Linked DNA regions of Homo sapiens: all the other regions are linked to region 3. Evidence: fine-mapped expression QTL. A gene starts in region 3. Each other region holds a variant in brackets. All regions are shown on one strand. Distances are between the middles of the regions. Region 1 overlaps CLEC1B (C-type lectin domain family 1 member B). Region 2 has its middle 22 kb from the start of CLEC2A. Region 3 holds the start of CLEC12A (C-type lectin domain family 12 member A).

Region 1 (4,248 bases), 21 kb after region 3:
AGCTGACTCTCTTGTTAGGGACTAATGCAGCTGATGACTTTAAGTTAAAGCCAGTAGTCTTTTATCATTTCAAACGTCCTAGGGACCTTAATAATTATGCTAAATGTACCTGCCAATGCTCTATGAATGAAACAATGACGTCTAGATGAAAGCACATTTGTTTATAGCATTGTTTACTGAGTATTTTAAGCCCATTGTTGAGAAACACTGCTCAGAAAAAAAAAAGGTCTTTTTTTCAAAATATTACAGCTCATTGACAATGCACCTAGTCACCCAAGAGCTCTTATAGACATGTACCGGGAGGTTAATGTTTTCAGTCCTGCTAACACAGCATCCTTTTCTGCAACCAACAAATCAAGGAGTAATTTTGACTTTCAAGTTTTATTCTTTAAGAAATACACATCATAAGGCTATAACTCCCACAGATACTGATTCTTCTTATATATCAGAGCAAAGTAAATTGAAAACCACCTGGAGACAACTTACCATTCTAGATGCCATTAAAAAGATTTGTGATTCATGGAAGGAAGACAAAGTGTCAACATTAACAGACACTTGGAAGAAGTTGAATCAAACCCTCATGGATAACTTGCAGGCGTTCAAGACTTCAGTGGTGGAAGTAACTGCAGATGTGGTGGAAATAGCAAGAGAACTAGAACTGGAAGTGGAGCCTGAAGATGTGGCTGAATTGATGCAATTTTATCAGGAAACTTTAACAAATGAGGAGTTGCTTTTTATGGATGAGCAAAGAAAATGGTTCTTGAGACAAATATTATTCCTGGTGAACATGCTGTGAACATTGTTGAAATGCTAATAAAGTATTCTGAATATTGCATAAACTTAGTTGATAAAGCAGTAGCAGGATTTGAGAGGACTGACTTCAATTTTGAAAGAAGTTTACGATGAGTAAAATGCTATTTAACAGCATCGCATTCTACAGATAAAAATTTCATAAAAGGAAGACTAAATTGATGCTACAAACTTCACCATTGTCTTATTTTAAAAATAGCCACATCTACCCCATCCTTCAGCAACCACTGCTGTGATCCATCAGCAGCCATCAACATCAAGGCAAGACGCTACACCAGCAAAAAGATTTTCACTCACTAAAGACTCAAATAATCAGCATTTTTAGCAATAAACTATTTTTAATAAAACTATGTACATTTTCCAGACATAATGCTGTTGTATACTTAATAGAAGACGTTGTAGCTCAAACATAACTTTTACACGAATTGGGAAAGCAAATAATTAATGTGACTCACTTTATTGCAATAATTGCTTTATTGTGGTGGTCTGGAACTGAACCCACAATATTTCCGAGGCATGCCTGTAAGTTAGTTTTAAATTGAAGAAGACAGAAGTCAAATTTTGCTGGAGTTCACTTAGATGACATGTAGAAGATTTAGTATTTGAAATGAGGTGGTCTGATCTGTGCTACTAACGTTTGTGCTATTTTGATTTTATGTATAAGATACTTTAGATATGAATACCAGAAAAAGAATCACAGTGATTGGCCTACATTTTTAATTGTATTGTTGCCATGCACTAAGATATTATTCTTCTAAGTTTATGTGTGCTATAGGGATGTATACACATATGTTTTTCCATTTTAGGGAGATGAAACAAAGTTGAGTTGCTAATTTTGTACAGTTTTCTGAATTATTGGTTCCTATTTAGTTTCTCTAAATAGACAATTCAAAATAAAAAACATACTGATACCATCACCCAAATCCAAGATCTCCAGACATTTGAAGTAACAAGTAAAATTTGAGGTATTTCTATTATTTTTCCTAAGCCCTCCAAATCTGCTTAATTATTGATA[G/A]GCTAGAAAAAAGATAAAGATTCAAGTGTCTTTCAGTGTTAGCGCACAAAGCTTTAAGAGTAACACATATTTATTGAGTATGTATTACATACTTGGTATTCTGATCGATACTTTATATAATCATATTAAATGAGCTTCACAATTAACTTATGAGCAAGGTAATAATATTAAACCCATTTCAAGGTGAGAACATTACTTATCCAAAGCCAGATAGAGAGTAAGTTCTAAAGTAGTGATATTTCTCTAACTGTATTAAAGACTACTTGTATGAGAATTGTGTCGTGATGCTGGTAAAAACCCAGGTCTCTGTGTCTCCTCAGTCTTCCCACTGAGTAACATCAGCATTTGAGTTTCCTATTTGGTTTCTCTATGTTTTAACCAAAACCTCCGTTGAGATGTTTGAGAATCATGTTCGTAAATGGTAGCCACTAGTTAAAAAAGGGAAGCTGTGGGAAAGAAATGCAATTTTTTCCTATTATCCTGTAAAAGGGTGCCTTTCCACATATTCTGTAAATACTTCCTGAGTTACTCAGCAAAAATAAAGCACAGAACTGTTAGGAAAATACTAATTAAAGCATTTTTACTTGTCCTTCTGTCTAGTAGCCTCTGAAACTTAAGAAGCATTTATTCATTTTACAAACCCAGTGAGTTTTCTTGCAAACTTTCTTTTCCTTCTCTAGCGCAGAAAATTACTACTGTTGAATCTAACCAGAGGTAGACTTGGAATAGTAATTCTATTTGCGTAATGTTTTAATGATTGAGCTATTTTTCTCATGAACTATCTTATACAAAGAGAAACAAATATCTCTCTGTTTTGTGAGCCAGGGTTTCGGGTTGGTGCTGGTAAGAGAATAGTGAATGGGGAAGTCATAGTGTTCGCTTTCATGGAGTTTCTGGTACAGTTAACACTCTAAAGTTCTATTTTAGGTTGTAGAACTGTGAGATATAAAAGATGGTTGTTATTATTCCTATTTTAAATATGAGAAAAGGGAAGTTAAAGAGGTTATGAAACTTGTTCATGATTGTAATTTAGTTAATTGACATCTAAATTATTTTGCTGATTCTAAGTTTAATATTCTTTTTACTATCTTACACCGCCTTTCAAACTTAGATATTTTGGACAGATTTCAAACATAGATATTTTGCACAACTTATATTAATTAAGCCCTAACCTATATTGGCCTGATTTTGATGTTATATGTGTATATCTGAAGATGCAGTAAATCATACCATGTTCAGGTAATTAGAAATGAAGGACAAGAAGAAAGAAAATTAAAGGAAAATAGAACAATTGGGAAGCAAATGATAAACTCACGTGATGGCTTCTGTATATTCAAAGAAGGGACTAGGTAATTCTGATAGGAAAGATAATATTAAAAATAACTCCAGTGAGAAGAAAGGGAGAAATAAGCAATTTTCAGCTACTGATGCATTCATACATATCTTTTATTGTACAATAAAGCCCTTATCTGTGTTATCCTGTCCACCTCTTTGCATTAAGGTAGTTGGTCCACCTTGGTCATGCCAGCCTTCCTCTCACACATTAAATAATGTTTGTTCTCACAGAAGGTAGGGTGCATTTTCCCATTATGAAAATAAGCACAATTCATATTTCCTTTTCCATCTTCCAAAAACTCAAACCTGTGAAGGGAAAGTTAGAATAAATTCCTTTGAAAACTGAGCAAACAATCAGTAATCAGACTCTGCGTATAGTAGTTTGATGCACCAAATAGAGACTGAGGAAAATAGGAAAAAAAAACAAAAAAAAAAACGATTCTCATTGTTGAGAAAGTTCCACCCTGCTTGGCAGTACAAGATATGCATATTTAAAAAGCCCAATATCAATTTCATTTAGCATAAAATTAGGAGCAAGGGAACAGTAGGTACAATAGGAGCCCTGAAGAAGTGATGGAGATGGCTCCAAAATAATGGGAAAACGCATTATCTACAAGATCAGACTTTAGTTCGGTATTGATGGAAGGTCAGGACTCAGATGAACTGACAGGAGATGGAAGAGCCCTACAGGACAAGTAGCTGCACTAGATGGGAATACGCTCATGGAAAAGTGAGTTGATTCAGTAGTTTTGAAATCAGGATTTATGTTGCAAGATAAATCATCTAACACAGCAGGCTGTATTGTAATTGTCTGTTAAGTTATATTTCTTTCTTTCTAAACTGCTTATAATGAGATGACAAGGAATATATACTTATTGGTTTATTTGGAGAATACCTGCAGAACTATGTGACAAAGTTGTTCTATGTGCTGAGGATACACTGATAAAGAAAGACAAGAAAGCTAATGTCTTTCTTGTTGGGGAACTTTCATTTAAGTGGGGCGATACCGGTAAGAAGCCCACAAAAAATAGACAAGAAAAATTGAGACAGTGGTAAGAGTTACAAAGAAACAAAACAGTGGTGGACTG
Region 2 (4,248 bases), 61 kb before region 3:
ATGCTTAGTTCTAGCATTAAGTCCCTTCCTAACAGGTTAATTTCTGCTTCCAGGATTAATAGAAGCTTCATATGAGTTGATCGGTTTTTATACTGACTTCTGTTTCTTCTAAGATTTTAGCTTTAAATCCTTCTCCCTTTACCCCTGAGACAGAAAGTTCTGAGGAGCAGGTGATATCAGATGGAGGGAAACAGAGGAGCGGGCTGCTCCTGAATCTACTAAAAACGTTATGAGTTCATATTTGGGTCCCACCTCTAAGTTTATCAAGGGCTCTTGGTGGGACTTGAGATAAAAGAGACAGAGCCCCTGGCCCCCCCTATTCTTCCTCAAAAGTCATGAGTGGAAGGACTTCTTTTTATTTTTCCCATGCGGGACATTCCCTCTTAAAGAGACCTGTTCTTCCACATTTAAAACATCTATTCTGTCTTTTCTCTGTTTTGGGATTCTTTGGCTTGGCCCCCCTGTGTTCTTTATAGGGTCTGGCAAATGAGGTCCCGGATCCTTTAATAGGGGGCTTGAAGCCTCTAAATGGAGGTTTGGGTCATTTATAGATTTTGGCCCCCTGGGGGCTTTGTTTAGAAATGTATTGATTTGGAGCCCCCTGTTGATAGGTGGATAGCATGAATTTTGCTTTCACTTTTTGCTTTTCTTCGTATCTTCTCACATATACCTTTTGAGTTTCTCTGAGAAATTCACTTAGAGGATGATCTTTCCAATCCTCTATCTTTTGTAATTTCTTGGAAATGTCTGCCCAACTATTAGTAAAAAAATGAAGCTTTAACATTCCTTGTCCTAGGGGATCTTATAAATCTAGGCCTGCTTATTTTTTCATTTGCTCCTTTAATCTGTTTAAGAATTCTATAGGCTCTTCATCCTTCCCCTGTTGTGTGCTGAGTGTCTGAGACAGAGTCTGAGTCCAGGGTACTTATTCTTGAGTTCTTTTTATCATCATCTCCCTCAGGTCTTGCAGGTTTTTCCAGTGAGCTATGTTGTTATTGTCCCACCAGGGATCTTGGGCACGGAATTCCTCGTCTGCTGTAGAAACGTTTTAACTGGGGGGTGTTCATGTTCTCAAACTACCATAGTGGCCCTAAGGATCATGCCCCTTTCTCTCCCTGAAAACAGGATGCCCAGGATGGGCATTAACTCAGCCCAAGTATATAACTGGGGTCCTAGAAATTGATCACCGACCTGATCTGCCACTCGATGAGGGTCATCTCACAGCGGCTTGAGTTCTTTTTTAAAGCCTGGAACTTCTGAACTGGTTAGAGGAGCATTTATGAAGCTGATGGCACCCCCTCCCTGCAGCACCTCTTTTAAGGGGCAGAGAGTCAGAGCTGATTCCCCAGGGATAGGGGATAAAGGGAAGTTTTGAATATCCTTTTTACATTGCTCTACCTCACGTTGGAGTCCTTTTAGAGAAGAGTATTTAGGCTGGTAAGGAGCTGGCTCATGGGATGATAATTCCCAAGAATTGGGGTTGTAAGGGGTGGGGAACAATGTGAGCAGGGGAGGGATCTGGAGTGGGGTCTGAGGTGGCAACAGCTGCTTGAGGGGGAGAATTGGGGGTATTGAGTGGAGGAAGATGGTCTAGGGGATCCCATGTGTTGATGGGCTGTCTAGGAATAGGGACCTTTTCTCTTTCAGAGCAGTAAGATTCTAGCTTGCTCCCTCTGATTTTTAGAGGGTAAAGGAGGACAGGTCCTTGCCTCCAACAAAGAGCATACTCTATATCCT[C/T]CAGAGACACAGGGCTTTTGTCATTAATATGTTCCATTAAAAGTTAACAAATCCATTCTTCACTGGACCCAAATTTTGGCCAGAAAATTGAGGGTTTGAGGATTGGCTCTCGAGCCCAAATGAAGCAAAAATACTTTATCATTTGCTGCTTTCTTTTATGTTTGGTTCTTTTATTATCTTACCAATATTTTAGCATAATCCCTAGGCAACTATCAGGAGGAATTTCATCATCTGCCTGGCTCTTTATTTTCCCTGTCTTATTTGAAACATTTCCCATCTTGGAGGTTTGGTATGGTGTCTAACTGGAGCAGGCTTTTTCCCTGGAGTTTTCAACCTCCCCTCTATTGGAGGTTTCTAATGCTTCTGGGTGTGTGGGGGCTCAACCTCTCCTACTAGAGATTTCTTGCCCTCCCTTCTTCTAGAAGCTGTGTGTGAGTCTCAATCTCTCCTACTAGAGATTTCTTGCCTTTCTTCTCCTAGAAGCTTAGCTCCCCTTTTACTGGATGTTTCTTGCAATCTTCTCCTTTTGTTTTGTACTCACTCAGCACAGTAGTAGTGCTCGTTACCATTCACACACTTTCAACCTCCAAGATATCCCGACCTCCAAGGAAATACTTTATTGCCCCTGCAACATTTCTTACCTTGTCCTGTGCATAGAGTTACCTGGTTGCCGTGGTAGGTAGGTAAGAATCCTTTCCACCCACGTTGCTGAGAGTGTGGGTTTATTCGTCATGCTGGGGGAGGTCCTGATCCCTTTCCCTCTGAGGCCAACGCAACGAGAGAGTGTGACGCATCTCCTCATGGGAGATGATCTGGGACCCTTCCCCAGAGGAGAAAGGGTATCCCTGATGAGCCCCTATGATTGTTAGAAACAAGTGCTCTGTGCTGCAAAGAAGAACCAGCACTGAGACAAAGGATTTCTCAGCAAGGCAATTTACTTCTGCAGAAGGGTGCTGCCTGCATCAGCCATGCAGCACACTGAACAAAGGAGGGTAAGAGTTTTTATTCCTAACACGGTCCCTGCTTCTGTGTAGTTCCCCATTGGCTGGAGTCAAGACCACACAACCTAAACTAGTCCTGATTGGCTAAACACTTAAACCTTCTATGTAAGGTAGATGAGTGATGGGGGAGAAGGAGGGAAGAGAAGAGGGCCACCTGTGGAGAATAAGGCTAAACTTTTTCCAAATAAGGAAAGGAATGTAGAGTGAGGCTGACATGTCTAGGCATGTCAGGGCACAGCAAGAGCAGGAGGGCTGTTTGCAGGCTAGAAAGAAGAGAGTACAAGAAGGTTGAGCCTCTGAGCAAAGAACAAGGACATTGCACAATTAAGCCCTTTGAAGAGGAATTTATCCTCTCTGGCATGAATTAATGGTGTGATTAGTTCCATATGTTGCCAGACCTTACCAGTTGTGAAGCCAGCAAGTCCAAGAATTCTCAAAACCCCAAAAGTAGTTTATAACCTTAAAACATTTAGCAAACCTTGACTCCAACCTGCATAATTTAGCTCACCTATTTACATTTTAGTGACACCTGCATTTTACCAATAATTTTTAAGGCTGTTTTTATTTCTCAAAGATTAAAGTCATGTGAACTGAAAGTACCACAGCTTTTATCTTCCCCTTAAAAAAATACTTGATCCAAGCACTTTTCTTTAGGACAAATTAATTAGAGCTCTTTTTGTAAACATCACACACAGTATACACACAGACAGGCAGAAGAAAACCCAGTCCCTGGGCCCATTTTTTTTAAGAGACAGGGCTAGGAGAACATGTAGATATCTAACCTGATAGGGTTAGATATCTCATCACCTAAGGCAGGGCTGCTAAACAAAGCCTTGTCATGCAGTTACTGGCCATGCCCCCAGGATGTAAAGCAAGATGGAGGCCTGCAACACAAACCATACAGACATGCAAAGCACACCAGATTGGCTATAGCCCAAGACTAGCCCCACAAATCCTTTTTCACAACAAAAACTTTAGAGAGTACAAACAGTGATAGTTGGGGGGCCTGGCCTTGTAAAAATGTCCTCTAAAAGGAAAAAAAAATGTAAAGGTTAACTGCTGATGGGGTAGAAGAAGGGGATAAAAAAATCAGTTTAAAATGCCTGGGGAAGAACCTCTTATTCTTATGAAAGTGGATGCTCCACCAGGGGAAAAGCTTAATTTTCATCCAATAAAGCTGAAGCCCTTGGGTGGGGAAGGGGAAGGCTGTGGTGGCTTATGGCTGGGAGCCAGCCAGCTGGCTCTGCAGGACCCTTAGGCCGTGAGTCCCAACCCCTGCATGGAGGGGAGGCAGAGTGAGGAGACCCCACTTGCCTGTCCCTCTTGAAAAAGGAAGAAAATGGCCTTTCCCCTGACCCTTAGAGTGACAGGGTTTGGGGGCATGTTTCCCCCACCCTCAGAAGCTGGAGGATGAAAATAGGAGCGACAGTGAGAGGTTTCGAGTCCTCATTTCATTCGCCTCTTCTCGAGCACCCATGTTATGTGCCAAAATTGTTGCAGGACTTTTCCT
Region 3 (4,248 bases):
GTTGATTTCATATCTTGTCTATTGCAAATAGTGCTGCAATAAACATGGGAGTGCAGGTATCTATAGTATATATACACAATGGAATATTATTTGGCCATAGAAGGAAATGAAATCCTGTCATTTGCAGAAACAGGAGTGGAACTGAAGGTCATTATGTTAACTGAAATAAGCCAGGCACAGAAAGACAAATATCACATGTTTCCACTCATATGTGAGAGCTAAAAGAATGAATCTCATGGAAGCAGAGAGTAGAATTGTGGTTACCAGAGGCTTAGAAAGGGGTGGTGGGGGATAAAGATAAGTTGGTTGGGTACAAAAATAAAATTAGATAGAAGGAACAAATTCTAGTATTTGATAGTACAGTGGGAAAACTATAGTTGACAATAATTTATTGTATATTTCAAAATAGCTAAAAGAGAAGAAATGTACTATTCCCAACAGAAGGAAAAGGTAAGTGTTTGACGGAATGAATATTCTTATTACCCTGATTTGGTCATTACACATTGTATACAGGTTTCAAAATATCACATGTACCTCCAAAATACATACAACTATTTTGTATCAATAACAAAATTTTTAAAAAACTGATATAGGCTGTGAAGGGCAAACCATGTAGTCATCTCAGAGCTCAGCTTATTCTTGTGGATATAAATGTTTTAGCTGGCTCTAAACCAAGGATTTTGTATGAAGTAATACTTATTCAAATATTTTCAACAAAATAGAGTACCTTGCAAACAGGACTTTGAGATTTTTCATTTGTTTCCCTTTACAGTTCGTCATATACGCTTCATCTTCTAGTGTTGATTGATGAAACAACGTTCCACATGAGACAGCAGAGCAATAGAACACAGAACAGGACTCTGCCTGTGTGGTGGCCGGTTTCCATCCTTTCACAAACAAAGAGATATTTATAAACAAATATTTATATGCAAATATTTGATCCACCTAGGAAAAATAGAGGGCTACTCTTTCCCACCAGGAGAGGCCTTATAGCCTGTGCACATATTTGAACAAGGCAACCAGAGACTTTGATGGTCTCAACTCTACCACTCACCAACTGTGTGATGTTGGATACAAACTTAACCACTTTGCAACTCACTTCCGCATCTGTAAAATAAGGGTGATAATAATAGCACCTGGTTTAGAGAGTTGTAAAGATAAAAGCAACATTAGTAAAGTACTTAGGATGAAGTAATCATGTTTTGAATATATTTTCCTTTAAATGTGGCTGCCAATATTTTCATGGTAATATTTTCAAATGTATTCAATAGCTTTTTCTTTATCAGGAGAAAATCAGTTGTTTTAATTAAATTGACATTGAATTTTTGATACATTTAGGAGAATTTAGTTTCTTTTTATACAGTATTGACGCTTCTAATCCCACAGCATGTTTTTCTATTTTTTTCTTTTCTTCAATAGTTTTAAAATTTTTTTGTTCATTTTGGTTATGCAAATATCTAGTTAATTTCTATCTGTAATATTTTCCTATTTATTTTTAGTAGCTCTTATAAAGGGAGCATTTTGTTTTTCCTGTCTATCCTGACATAATAAAGCAATTAGTTTTTAATTGATTTTTAAAAATATTTATGCATTCTCTTTCATATGTATAATAATAATACCTAACCATTTTATGATTTACATGTGGCAATGTCAAGAAGAATTTTAAAGTAAGATTTACTAACGAATATTAGAGAACATGCTCAAAAACAGTCCTCTCCACCCCCTCACTTCCACTTGCATTCTTGATCAAGAAGTGAAATAAAAAATACTAAGACTATTGAGTCAAACTAATAAGACACAAATCTGGACTTTGGAGACTCATTTCCCTCCCACTTTTGATAGCTTAGCTGAGGAGGAGATCAAATGGTTGAGTCAGTCTGTAGAGAGATAGCAAGGCTGATTATAGTTTTCCTGGCCTGCAAAGCTGTTTCCAGAGCCCTCAGTATACAGACCTTGGCCATCAGTATGCATACTCTCTGGTGTGGTTTCTGGGCATCAGATCCCTTAATATATAGGTTGGCGCTAAAGTAATTTTGTAAACTTTTAATGGCAAAAACCACAATTACTTTTGCTTTTAATGGCAAAAACCAGAATTACTTTAGCACCAACCTATATATTGTTATTTAGAGAAACTAGGCATTCCCTACCTCTCTTAGGCAAACCTATAGCTATGTAACATGGCAACGGAATGACACTAACTGTCTCATTCTCCTTGGGAGTGCTCTCTGTATGTTCAGTCTCCCAGTGAAGAGAACCCTTCTATCAGGACCTTCATCATCATACAAAAGGAATATCTATGCCAGGCCACAGCTGCAGATTAGTGAGTGTCTGAGAACTGCATCTTTTCTGTTATTTTTCTGCTTGAAAGTTTTTCACCAATAAATCCTACACTATGTCTGCACCATGTGGTGCTAGTTATTTGTGTTCTCTTGCATGACACTGATGATGTTATCCAAACACAATTTCAAAAACTACTTTCTGTAGTTGGTAAATATATAGAAATTGAGAAAAAGGAAGAAATATGAGGAAGAAAGATGTTATCTGTTGCAACAGTTCAATGTTCTTAACTGAAGCCACAGATGAGATTTGGCTCATTTGCAGACATATGGGTGATTGGTACAGTAGGTTTATAAACAGAAGTTTAAACTTGTAAGCTTAAGCTTCCGTTTATAAACAGAAGTTTAAAATTATAGGTCCTGTTTAACATTCAGCTCTGTTAACTCACTCATCTTTTTGTGTTTTTACACTTTGTCAAGATTTCTTTACATATTCATCAATGTCTGAAGAAGTTACTTATGCAGATCTTCAATTCCAGAACTCCAGTGAGATGGAAAAAATCCCAGAAATTGGCAAATTTGGGGAAAAAGGTAAGATTTTGAGTTATGGATGTGTTGTAAGTTTGTATAATAGAAGTGGTTATAGACTTGCATCTTCAATATTAGTGATATAGTTACTATTCAACTTAAATTTTCAATTAAGTCTCTTATGTTTAAGCAAAGGAACAAAAAGTGTATGAACAAAATGATTAGAAAAAAGGGTTTTGTAAAAACACTTATCTCTGCATTGAATAATCAATCTTTTACATTTTTGAAATTTTTTATTATCACACTCAATATAATTGGGACAGAATTTTTCAAATGATTGGGTTGTATGAAGATTTTATTTCTTTATGAGATGAAGCCATGGAAAAAGAAACATGTTCAGGAAAGTCATGATTTCATATGTGTGTGTGTGTGTGTGTTTTTTTTTTTATAAGAAAATGCTTTGTGTCAGACAGAGAGACCTTTATAGGATTTCATTTGACTATCTACCAAACTAAGCATAAATCACCCTAAAATTTCTCCTACTTCTTTTGGAGATTTTTTACTAACTTACTAAAAAATAAAACATGTTAAGTTAAATGAAATGAATCATTAAGGAATAAAGGAAGAAAAGAGGTAAAGAAATATCAGAAGACATAATATATTCATAATATTCAAAACCACATTATATCAAGTAACTTTGTATTTTTCAATTCAAATTAAAATCATGAAATAAGTGGTCCATCTGTGTTGACTTTCACTTAAACAAAACTACTCTTCATCTTACTCAGAATCCTATAGTTTTCCTATTATGTATGGTTCTTGCCTTCTGGCTCCTAGCCTTTTGGGAGTGAAATCTGCCCTAGCGAATCCATAGTTTAAATCAGTGTATTTGAGTTAAAAATAACTTAAACAGTGATAGTGGAGAACACAAAGAAGGGTGATAGAAACAGAAAAATAAGGAGAGAAGAGTGCCAAAATTCTCACATATTATTTAAGTTGTTGTCCTCTCTCCTCTCCCCACACAGAATATAACATCTTTAATATTCTAGCATTGCTATAAACAGAAATTTCACTGTTACATCTTGGATCCATTTATGATGAGCATTGTAAATCTTGAGAAAGGATAGCAGATTAATTCTGTTGGCTTCTTTTTTAATACTGAAATTTTTTTTTAGAAAGAAGAAGGGTTTAAGAATTTTACAATATTTTCTGTCTTTATTTCCTTGTTTATATTTCTTCTTTTATACACTGAAAGAGAATGGGCATATCATGAGCCTAATATTACCAACAATTGCCCTTTACTTGTCCTCTCACACCCTTTCCCACCTCTTTTCCTGCCAATCCACCTTAAGTTCCCACCACAAGAATTCCCTGAATTCACGGAAATATTGAATCCATGTCTTCTTCATGTTCTTAATCTCATCTAATTTTCTCATTATCGAGC

The links. PIP is the estimated chance that this variant, and not a neighbour inherited with it, causes the effect.
Region 1: its variant is the best candidate, but not a certain one, in a credible set for the expression of CLEC12A in monocytes (Fairfax 2014, PIP 0.65).
Region 2: its variant is the best candidate, but not a certain one, in a credible set for the expression of CLEC12A in whole blood (INTERVAL, PIP 0.52).

The regions. Positions count from the first base shown.
Region 1 is chr12:9,989,822-9,994,069 of GRCh38, forward strand. CLEC1B (C-type lectin domain family 1 member B) reads right to left here. Exons shown (of 6, transcript NM_016509.4): 6 at 3,254-3,466. The coding sequence ends at 3,322. It also overlaps a transcript of CLEC12A not described here. Among named protein-coding and RNA genes, the nearest start is that of CLEC1B, 7.2 kb to the right of the region's middle. The variant G/A (reference allele first, on the strand shown) is at 1,826.
Region 2 is chr12:9,908,313-9,912,560 of GRCh38, forward strand. It overlaps a transcript of CLEC2A not described here. Among named protein-coding and RNA genes, the nearest start is that of CLEC2A, 22 kb to the right of the region's middle. RefSeq lists an enhancer at 1,858-3,057. The variant C/T (reference allele first, on the strand shown) is at 1,738.
Region 3 is chr12:9,968,821-9,973,068 of GRCh38, forward strand. CLEC12A (C-type lectin domain family 12 member A) reads left to right here and starts at 2,589. Exons shown (of 6, transcript NM_138337.6): 1 at 2,589-2,867. The coding sequence starts at 2,777.